Linked DNA regions of Homo sapiens. The protein of the gene in region 1 purifies or fractionates together with the protein of each later gene. This does not show direct contact. Each region holds a gene or a part of one and is shown in the gene's direction. Other genes may lie near its edges. The genes, in order: SLC25A25, UNG and ACP6.

Region 1 (3,662 bases):
CCCAGAGCAGCATCTACCCAATGGAGGTGAGGGGCCGCCTGGGTCCTGGGGCGGGCAGTGGGCACAGGACTGGGGAGAGGCACAGGCTGTGCTCACGCGTCCCGCTGCTCCTGTTGTGCAGGTCCTGAAGACCCGGATGGCGCTGCGGAAGACAGGCCAGTACTCAGGAATGCTGGACTGCGCCAGGAGGATCCTGGCCAGAGAGGGGGTGGCCGCCTTCTACAAAGGCTATGTCCCCAACATGCTGGGCATCATCCCCTATGCCGGCATCGACCTTGCAGTCTACGAGGTGAGGCCCAAGCTGGACAGATTTAGAAACCTCCTCCCAGCACACCTCCACCTGCTGTCTCCCTCCTTGACGGACGCGTGGTTAGTGCAGGAAACTGCATCAAAGACTGCGCCTCCTTCCTGCTCTTCTGTTTACTGCAGCTTTCCTTCACCCTGCCTGCCCCTGGCAGACCCCAGCAGCTCCTGTGAGCCCTGCACCCAGGCTCTGCATCCCCAGAGGCTCAGCAGGCAGATCCCCAGAGCAGGGTGGCCCCCAGGAGCTCACAGGCCCCAGCACACTCTAGACAGACCCCAGAAGTCAGCCCTTCTGTGTGGGGAAGGAGGTGTTCCCTCTACCTTGTCCCGGAATTCCCAGTGACAGCAGAAACAGGGCAGCCAGGCTAGGAGCCCAGCCAGGCCCCAGGCGCGGCAGTCGGGTTCCAGTGGCCTGAGGACCCAGTAACAGCCCCGTCTCTTGCTGCCTCACTAGCCCTTCCTAGGGCTTATCCCATGCTCCCTTCTCCTTCTAGACGCTCAAGAATGCCTGGCTGCAGCACTATGCAGTGAACAGCGCGGACCCCGGCGTGTTTGTGCTCCTGGCCTGTGGCACCATGTCCAGTACCTGTGGCCAGCTGGCCAGCTACCCCCTGGCCCTAGTCAGGACCCGGATGCAGGCGCAAGGTAAGGCTGGCCCTGGACAGTCCCCTGGGAGGTCGGGGGGAGCGGACAGAAGCATCTGACTGGTGGCCTCCATCCTGCAGCCTCTATTGAGGGCGCTCCGGAGGTGACCATGAGCAGCCTCTTCAAACATATCCTGCGGACCGAGGGGGCCTTCGGGCTGTACAGGGGGCTGGCCCCCAACTTCATGAAGGTCATCCCAGCTGTGAGCATCAGCTACGTGGTCTACGAGAACCTGAAGATCACCCTGGGCGTGCAGTCGCGGTGACGGGGGGAGGGCCGCCCGGCAGTGGACTCGCTGATCCTGGGCCGCAGCCTGGGGTGTGCAGCCATCTCATTCTGTGAATGTGCCAACACTAAGCTGTCTCGAGCCAAGCTGTGAAAACCCTAGACGCACCCGCAGGGAGGGTGGGGAGAGCTGGCAGGCCCAGGGCTTGTCCTGCTGACCCCAGCAGACCCTCCTGTTGGTTCCAGCGAAGACCACAGGCATTCCTTAGGGTCCAGGGTCAGCAGGCTCCGGGCTCACATGTGTAAGGACAGGACATTTTCTGCAGTGCCTGCCAATAGCGAGCTTGGAGCCTGGAGGCCGGCTTAGTTCTTCCATTTCACCCTTGCAGCCAGCTGTTGGCCACGGCCCCTGCCCTCTGGTCTGCCGTGCATCTCCCTGTGCCCTCTTGCTGCCTGCCTGTCTGCTGAGGTAAGGTGGGAGGAGGGCTACAGCCCACATCCCACCCCCTCGTCCAATCCCATAATCCATGATGAAAGGTGAGGTCACGTGGCCTCCCAGGCCTGACTTCCCAACCTACAGCATTGACGCCAACTTGGCTGTGAAGGAAGAGGAAAGGATCTGGCCTTGTGGTCACTGGCATCTGAGCCCTGCTGATGGCTGGGGCTCTCGGGCATGCTTGGGAGTGCAGGGGGCTCGGGCTGCCTGGCCTGGCTGCACAGAAGGCAAGTGCTGGGGCTCATGGTGCTCTGAGCTGGCCTGGACCCTGTCAGGATGGGCCCCACCTCAGAACCAAACTCACTGTCCCCACTGTGGCATGAGGGCAGTGGAGCACCATGTTTGAGGGCGAAGGGCAGAGCGTTTGTGTGTTCTGGGGAGGGAAGGAAAAGGTGTTGGAGGCCTTAATTATGGACTGTTGGGAAAAGGGTTTTGTCCAGAAGGACAAGCCGGACAAATGAGCGACTTCTGTGCTTCCAGAGGAAGACGAGGGAGCAGGAGCTTGGCTGACTGCTCAGAGTCTGTTCTGACGCCCTGGGGGTTCCTGTCCAACCCCAGCAGGGGCGCAGCGGGACCAGCCCCACATTCCACTTGTGTCACTGCTTGGAACCTATTTATTTTGTATTTATTTGAACAGAGTTATGTCCTAACTATTTTTATAGATTTGTTTAATTAATAGCTTGTCATTTTCAAGTTCATTTTTTATTCATATTTATGTTCATGGTTGATTGTACCTTCCCAAGCCCGCCCAGTGGGATGGGAGGAGGAGGAGAAGGGGGGCCTTGGGCCGCTGCAGTCACATCTGTCCAGAGAAATTCCTTTTGGGACTGGAGGCAGAAAAGCGGCCAGAAGGCAGCAGCCCTGGCTCCTTTCCTTTGGCAGGTTGGGGAAGGGCTTGCCCCCAGCCTTAGGATTTCAGGGTTTGACTGGGGGCGTGGAGAGAGAGGGAGGAACCTCAATAACCTTGAAGGTGGAATCCAGTTATTTCCTGCGCTGCGAGGGTTTCTTTATTTCACTCTTTTCTGAATGTCAAGGCAGTGAGGTGCCTCTCACTGTGAATTTGTGGTGGGCGGGGGCTGGAGGAGAGGGTGGGGGACTGGCTCCGTCCCTCCCAGCCTTCTGCTGCCCTTGCTTAACAATGCCGGCCAACTGGCGACCTCACGGTTGCACTTCCATTCCACCAGAATGACCTGATGAGGAAATCTTCAATAGGATGCAAAGATCAATGCAAAAATTGTTATATATGAACATATAACTGGAGTCGTCAAAAAGCAAATTAAGAAAGAATTGGACGTTAGAAGTTGTCATTTAAAGCAGCCTTCTAATAAAGTTGTTTCAAAGCTGATCATGGAGCCAGTATTTTTCTGACGGGGGCCTGGGTGGTCTGGGGGTGCTGACATGTTAGAAAATGCGCCCTGTTTTCCCCTCTGGAGCCTGGTGGTGCCCCCTTTCGGCTTCTTAGAGGCGCTCCCTCTTTAATGGTTGCGTGTTCGATTTGGGGTGCCCTGAGTTGCTGTGTAGGGTCGTTCCTCAGCCTGTCTCAGGCAGGGTGCGGGGGATCTCTCCCTCCGCCGGAAGTGCCATCTTCACAGACACCGAGGACGTCGCTGGGCTTCTCTCCCCTCCCCCCAGCTGCCCCTCCCAGCCTCACCCCGCTCCTGCCTCCTCACACCCTCTCAGTAACCTCATCTGACTGAGGATTACCTTCAATATCTATATTTAGATGACACTCCTTTGATACTTGAACGAATTCCAGCTTCATCAGTACAACTGTGAAATCCACATCCACTTAAACAGCACCTCGAGTTCAGCATGTCAGAAGCCGAACCCTTCATTTTCCTCCCAAAATCTGCTTCTTCATTTTCCTCATGCCAGCAAATGGCAACTCCTTTCTTCTACGAACTTAAGCCAAACACCTTGTAGTCAACCTGACTCTGTACTTCCCTCTGGTTCCAGGGCAGTCCACCAGCAAATACCGTCAGCCCCACCCGCA
Region 2 (3,648 bases), on another chromosome or scaffold:
CATTATTGTTTTGTTTCTGGGTTTTTTGTTTTTTGATGGAGTCTCGCTCTGTTGCCCAGGCTGTAGTGCAGTGGTATGATTTTGGCTCACTGCAACCTCCGCCTGCTGGGTTTAAGTGATTCTGCCTCAGCCTCCCGAGTAGCTGGGACTACAGGCGCCCGCCACCACACCCGGCTGATTTTTTTTTATTTTTTAGTAGAGACAGGGTTTCACCATGTTGGCCAGGCTGGTTTTGAACTCCTGACCTCAAGCGATCTGTCCTCCTCAACCTCCAAAGTGCTAGGATTACAGGCATGAGCCACCACACCCGGCCTATCGGTGATCATTATTAACCCCAAGGTCTAATTGCAGATACCCAACACGACCAAACCAGTGGCTCCCCTCCCTACATCTTCCCCCTATCTGCTACCTCCCTCTTTCCCTTCACTCACTGAAGCACTTCTACACCTGGTTGTGGAAATCAGAGACCTAAAAGTCATCCTTGAATCCTCCATCCCATCAGTAAATCCCATCAACTCTGCCTCCCAAAACACCCCAGTCTACTGCTTCTCATTCGCCACTGCTGCCCTTCAGGCATGAGTCACCATCATCTTTCTCCAGGAGAACCGTGATGGACTAGAGATGGAGGCTTGATGGAGAGCCGCAGAGTGGAGGAGGGAGAGATAGGGGGTGGGAAGGAGACGAGCCAGGGGTGTGTTCATCCCTGGCAAATGGGAGAGACATTGGGTGGGGGAGAAATTATAGAGTAAATGCTTCAATGATCGAAGGCAAGGGCTTAGCAGAGGTAACCTGACAATAGTTTTTGGTGTATCAGCAGGAGGTAACGGGGGTATCAGAAATGTGCACGTATATTTAACCCCTACCTTGTGTGGGTACTAGGTTGAGCACTTTTGTTTTTTGAGATGGAGTCTTTCTGTCACCCAGGCTGGAGTGCAGTGGCATGATCTCGGCTCACTGCAACTTCGCCTCCTGGGTTCAAGCACTTCTCCTGCCTCAGCCTCCTGAGTAGCTAGGATTACAGTTGCCTGCCACCACACCCAGCTAATATTTTTTATTTTTAGTAGAGACTGGGTTTCACCATGTTGACAAGGCTGGTCTTGAACTCCTGACCTCAAGCGATCCTCCCATCTTGGTCTCCCAAAGTGCTAGGATTACAGATGTAAGCCACCGCACCCGACCAGGTTGAGTACTTTGCATGCAGAATCTTACTTAACTCTCAGAAAGGCTTTGAGGTAGGCATACACTTGTATGAGTGACCTAAGATCTGACTGGTATGAACTGCTAAGATGTGATCATCTAGGTATGTAAGAAGTGTGCGTGAGAGTAATTGCTAATCTCTATCCCTTAGGGAGGTTTACGGCCAGTGTTGCTCTTCCGCAGTATATTGGTAATCTTTAATCATGGTTTGGTCTGAAAGTAAACAGTTGTTAAAGTAGCTTGGTCATTAAAGCCAAATTGCATATCTCCAGCCCAGTGTCTCTTCTGATCTATAGAGTGCCTTGTTACTACTGCCCCATGAACATGCCAAATTCAACATTTTCCAAACGAAGTTTCTCCTTTTCTCATCCATGCTTCACTAAACTTCCTCCTCTGCACTCCCTAGCAGCAAAAAGCACCATCATCTGCCCAGTTGTCCAGCCAGATCTATTACTGACACCTGCCTACCTCTCTTTCTCCCCTCTTCTGTCCTTTTTTTCCACCTTCCCAGTCAGTCAGTCATTCATATCTGTGTTCTTTCTTCCCCCTCCAAATCTACCCCTGCCTGACCACCTTTGCCTTCATTCAGGCCCTCACCTGATCTTGCCTGGAGGGTTCTGATGCTTTCTCCCTGGAAGGCCTTGCCTTAGGCTGAAGATCTGATTTCAGGGGGGTAGAGGGGTGGCCCCCAATCGGCCTCCCAGACTTAACTCTATCCCTCTTTGCACTCCGATCCCTAGGCTGACCCATTCCCCTTTACTTTTTCACGGTGCCCCACTTCCCTGCCTTTGCATATCCTGCTTTCTCTGCCTACAGTGTAGAGGTCATTTTCTTCTGGGATTCTTTAGAGCTCTGCAGGGCTGACATTTACAGGGGCCTGTGCTGCTTGCGTGTGTGTTCAGCATTTGGTGTGCATGACTTCTTATCACACTCAGCCCCTGTGATCCTCATTTGATTGGTCACAGTAACTTCATAAGCTGGGCGGTATTGTTATTCCCAGTCTACAGATGAAAACTGAAGCAGCTTAGAGTTGCAGCAACTTCTCTGTGGTACAGCTACTGAGGGTAGAGGTAGGCCTCGACCCCGGGCAGTCTGGCTCCAGGCTCTGTACTCTTAACCACACTGGATTGCCTGGCTTTAGTCCTCACCCCTCATCGCCCCTCCTGGACTGAGCCCCTTGAAGGCAAGAGTGTTTTGAGAAACAGTGATTTGTTCGTTAGTTTTTATATACAGAAAAGAAGAGGAAAACAAAAATGGTCTATATCTCCCTGTTAAAATAACTATAGTTGATATTTTAAAAAAATCAAAGTAGTCATTTGCCACATAATGATGTTTCAGTCATAAACTGTATATATGACGATGGTCCCATAAGATTATAATATTCTGGCCGGGTGTGGTGGCTCATACCTGTTATCCCAGCACTTTGGGTGGCCGAGGCGAGTGGATTGTCTGAGCTCAGGAGTTTGAGACCAGCCTGGGCAACATAGTGAAACCCTGTCTCTACTAAAATACAAAAAATTAGCCAGGTGTGGCGGCGTGTGCCTGTAGTCCCAGCTACTTGGGAGGCAGAGGTTGCAGTTAGCTGAGATCATGCCACTGCACTCCAGCCTGGCAACAGAGTGAGACTCTATCTCAAAAAAAAAACATATATATATATACACATATATATATACGTATATATATATGTGTATATATATATATATAAAAAATATTTTTACTGCATCTTTTCTATGTTTAGATACACAAATGCCTACCATTGTGTCACAGTTGCCTATAGTATTTAGTACAGTAACATGCTACACAGGTTTGTAGACCAGGAGCAATAAGCTACACTATATAGCCTAGGTGTGTAGTGGTAGGTTATCCCATTTGGGTTTGTGTAAAGATGCCCTGTGGTGTACGGATAGCAGTGAAATTGCCTAACAACACACTTCTCAGAATGCATCCCTGTCATTAGGTGATGTATGACTATTGCTTTTTTTCTTTTGAAACAGGGTCTAGCTCTGTCACCCAGGCTGGAATGCACTGGCTTGATCTCAACTCACTGCGGCCTCAACCTCCCAGGCTCAAGCAATCCTCCCACCTTAGTCACCTGAGTAGCAGGGACCACAGGCGTGCGCCACCACACCTGGCTAATTTTTGTATTTTTTTTTGTGGAGACAGGGTTTCACCACGTTGCCCAGGCTGGCTCTTGAACTCCTGGACTTAAACGATCCTCCTGCCTCGGCCTCCCAAAGTGCTGGGATTACAGGCGTGAGCTACCACACCTGGCCACTGACTATTCCTCTTTTTTTTTTTTTTTTTTTTTTTTCTGAGACAGTTTCACTCTTGTTGCCCAGGCTGGAGTGCAATGGCGTGATCTCAGTTCACTGCAGCCTCCCCCTCCTGGGTTCAAGTGATTCTCCTGCCTCAGCCTCCTGAGTAGCTGGGATTACAGGCATGTACCACCAC
Region 3 (3,748 bases), on another chromosome or scaffold:
GCAGGGTCTTTTTGACTGGTTTCTTGTGATACCAGTCCTGCTGACCTCCCCCCTCATCCTGTGACTGAGAATGCCTAACCTCCTGGGAATGCAGCCCAGTAGGTCTCAGCCTCATTTTACCCAGCCGCTATTCAAGATGGAGTCACTATGGTTCAAATGCCTCTGACAGAATCACCTTCTAAAAGTCCTATGTCCAAATGCAGTCACTTAGTGGGTACGAATTTGGCGGGGGACACAACTGAGTCCATAGCAAACAGTATTCGATTTTTAATCACATCAGCACACACAATAAGACTCTGAAAAGTGAGTCCCTTGGCTGGGCTAGGGAGAAAATTGTGACAATATGTAGTGTTCCAAAATGACCCTCCTCCCTGCATCAGGGAGGGGAGCACTCAGAACCTTCCAGCTTGGTGAACAGAATTTGTTCTCAGGCCAGGAGCCATGCTCTGTAAGTATGTTGTCTTTACATCTGGCCCAGTTTGATCTTTGGAGATAGACACATAGTGGGTCCCAGATTGTGTCCTGTTGCAAAGATCTGGAAACACAGGCTTGGGATACCTGTATATCAACAGAAACCAGACTAGCAGGTGGTAAGGCTGGCATTGTTCTGTGTTCTTAGGTTTTTTTTTGTTTTTTTTTTGTAGACGGAGTCTTGCGCTGTTGCCCAAGCTGGAGTCGTGTGGCGCGATCTCGGCTCACTGCAAGCTCCGCCTCCCGGGTTCACGCCATTCTCCTGCCTCAGCCTCCTGAGTAGCTGGGACTACAGGTGCCCGCCACCACGCCTGGCTAATTTTTTTTTTTTTTTTTTTTTGTATTTTTAGTAGAGACGTGGTTTCACCGTGTTAGCCAGGATGGTCTCGATCTCCTGACCTCATGATCTACCCGCCTCGGCCTCCCAAAGTGCTGGGATTACAGGCGTGAGCCATGGCGCCTCTTAGGTTCTTAATCACTGGGACACCCACAGGCAAGGCCTGGCTTTTTCCACAAGAAGTATTCTGGATGGAAGTAAACACATCAGTGACCTGAAAGTTCTACATGATTACAATGACTTAAGCTTGAGAATTTTTTTAAAAACAGAGAAGGGAGTAGTAAATGACTAAATATAAAGCACCTAGTGCTGTGTTTCGCAAATGGCAATCACTCGGCAGGTGTCTCAGCTCCTCGCTGCAGCAACCAGGCTTCCAGGACTGGAAGGAAGTCTTCTACATTCAAAACTAGACTCAAACTACTCCCCTCCACCACCCAGTTCTACTCCTGCGCTCGCGATCCTCCTGCCTGGCAAACTCCATGGCCCGACAGATTCACTACCACTCCACTGCCGGACCAGGCACGTCCGTGGGCCATCCACGCCTGGAAAACGGCTGGCTGGGCCGGAGGGGCGAGGCCCGCAGGCGAGGGGGGCGGGTACAAGCCACTTCTTGGGAGCCGCGGTACGCGCAGCCTTGTGGGAGTTGTAGTTTCCGCAGCTCTGAGTCTCCAGGCGAGGTGTCACCACAGGACTCGTTTTCCCGTGCTCCTGTGCGCGGGTCCACTTGGGACGGGTCCCTGAGTAGGTGAGGAGGTGGGTAGGAGCTTGCTTATAGAAAAGTGGAATCGAGTAGTCCTTGCTGGTGGAGCCGCTGCCGCCAGGGAACTCAGGGCCGGCTCCTGTTCCTTCAAGAGTGCTGGAGGCCAAACTTGAAATACAAGTTTAATGTTCCTCGTCGGGCAAAAGATAAGGATCCGATCTCCCCCGGCCCGGTGTGCAGCAGGAGCGACCAACCCCGACCCGGGTTAAAACTCCCAGGGACTCTTCGCTGCTGCCACCTCTTGTTCTCTCCCCCGTTCCCACTCGGGGTCTCCCTCAGGGCCGGGAGGCACAGCGGTCCCTGCTTGCTGAAGGGCTGGATGTACGCATCCGCAGGTTCCCGCGGACTTGGGGGCGCCCGCTGAGCCCCGGCGCCCGCAGAAGACTTGTGTTTGCCTCCTGCAGCCTCAACCCGGAGGGCAGCGAGGGCCTACCACCATGATCACTGGTGTGTTCAGCATGCGCTTGTGGACCCCAGTGGGCGTCCTGACCTCGCTGGCGTACTGCCTGCACCAGCGGCGGGTGGCCCTGGCCGAGCTGCAGGAGGCCGATGGCCAGTGTCCGGTCGACCGCAGCCTGCTGAAGTTGAAAATGGTGCAGGTCGTGTTTCGACACGGGGCTCGGAGTCCTCTCAAGCCGCTCCCGCTGGAGGAGCAGGTGAGAGGTCGGCCCGGGCTGGGGCTGGTGGGGCGAGGACCGTGTGCCAGGCCAGGAGTCTCGCCCTGACACACATCTTCAGAGCTTTACTCGCGCGGAGCGGGGCTCGGGTTGGGTCCAGAAGAAGGGAAAACAGCAGTAGCCAGTGACTCCCCAGGCTCTTGAGCAAAGGACCTGCTGGGGTTAGGACAGCCCCGGAACTTCCAGTTTTGCCCTGATGGCGCAGCCATCAGTAAGCGCTGCTTAAGACGCATGGGAGTCGCCTGGGGATCCTGCTACGTTGCAGATTCTGATTCAGCAGGTGTGGAGTAGTGCCCCAGGTCAGCATTTCTATTAAGGGTCTAGGTGAACTTGAATACAAGGGTGCAGTGCACTTCTGTGTGACCATTTTGAAGGTGGTTTGTCAGAGCTGAAGGGCTGAAGGGACTTTAGTGATAGGAACCACTCTTAACTGAGATTACAGTGGATAAGAGGTCGTTGCCTTTGGAAACAAACTTTATAACTGCTTTTTCTCAGGGTTTGCTGGAGGCCATTTGAGATCTCCTGAAGTTTTTTTTTGTAACAAGTGTTGTATTCTAGGGTTCTCCTTTTCTATTTAAGGTTACTAAACCTATAGTGGGAGGGATCTGAGGTCGGAACAAATTTAAAATGGGCTAGTCTGTGGCAGTAATGTTTTAAAAATCTGTCTGGTTTTGTCAGGATAATTATGACTAAAGCACAAATAGTTTAAAAAAAAATGATTATCTTTCCTGGATGTGACTTTTTATAGCAGAAAGGCCTAGTGAAGAGGAACAGGCAACCTGAAATCCCCAAACTCCCAGGTATTACACCTGTGGAGTGCTTTTGTATCGTTGGTCTTCCAGGTTGATGTTGGAGGAGGTCGAAAAGATTGTCCAAAATTGATGTTAGGTATACTCTTCATAATAACAGTTGCTTTCTAGAAACCTTCAGGATTGTGTCTTTACATTGTACAACTGGAAACCCATTTTTCAAGGTTGGCCGCACATGAAATTAAACTTCTAAAGCATTTTCCACATAAATAAATACATTTGGAAGGCACTTAATTCTATTACCAGGTTTCTAGTTAGCCTTACTCTGGCTTTACCACTTGCTCTCTGGAACCGGGATTTCTTCTTTCATTTTGATTCTTTGATTTTTTTTTCAGTCTCTTACTTTGCCTTTTTATATTAGATCACTAAATTTTCCTTATGATTTTGTATACAGCCCATCTCTGATGCTCCCCTTCCCCCAATTCTTCTCTATTTATTCTTGGTACAGAAGGACTGGGGAATCACATGTAGGAATATATATTATATTCACGTAGAAGACAAAAAATTATCAGTGGTAATGGAGAGTAAAACTTTGAATGTGTAGGCCTAGACCTAGTATGTACCATATATATATATATATATATCCTGAAGGCACTAGGAAAAGATTTAGATTCTTTTAGGGCTTTATCCCTAAGGGAGAGTGGGTGTGTGATGGATATCTTCTGCCTTTATGGTTGAAAGGTCCGTTGTAGCT

What was found.
Region 2: the proteins of SLC25A25 (region 1) and UNG purify together in Homo sapiens (affinity purification with mass spectrometry; one large-scale study listed by BioGRID and IntAct). This does not show direct contact.
Region 3: the proteins of SLC25A25 (region 1) and ACP6 purify together in Homo sapiens (affinity purification with mass spectrometry; one large-scale study listed by BioGRID and IntAct). This does not show direct contact.

What each region holds. Positions count from the first base shown.
Region 1 is NC_000009.12:128,106,232-128,109,893, forward strand, and holds the end of SLC25A25 (mitochondrial adenyl nucleotide antiporter SLC25A25), read left to right. Parts: coding exon 1-26; intron 27-121; coding exon 122-289; intron 290-797; coding exon 798-948; intron 949-1,028; coding exon 1,029-1,213; 3' UTR 1,214-3,014; downstream 3,015-3,662. UniProt on the Homo sapiens protein: Electroneutral antiporter that most probably mediates the transport of adenyl nucleotides through the inner mitochondrial membrane.
Region 2 is NC_000012.12:109,104,035-109,107,682, forward strand, and holds part of UNG (uracil-DNA glycosylase), read left to right. Parts: intron 1-3,648. UniProt on the Homo sapiens protein: Uracil-DNA glycosylase that hydrolyzes the N-glycosidic bond between uracil and deoxyribose in single- and double-stranded DNA (ssDNA and dsDNA) to release a free uracil residue and form an abasic (apurinic/apyrimidinic; AP) site.
Region 3 is NC_000001.11:147,668,306-147,672,053, reverse strand, and holds the start of ACP6 (lysophosphatidic acid phosphatase type 6), read left to right. Parts: upstream 1-1,529; 5' UTR 1,530-2,005; coding exon 2,006-2,224; exon of another isoform or gene 2,225-2,544; intron 2,545-3,748. UniProt on the Homo sapiens protein: Hydrolyzes lysophosphatidic acid (LPA) containing a medium length fatty acid chain to the corresponding monoacylglycerol.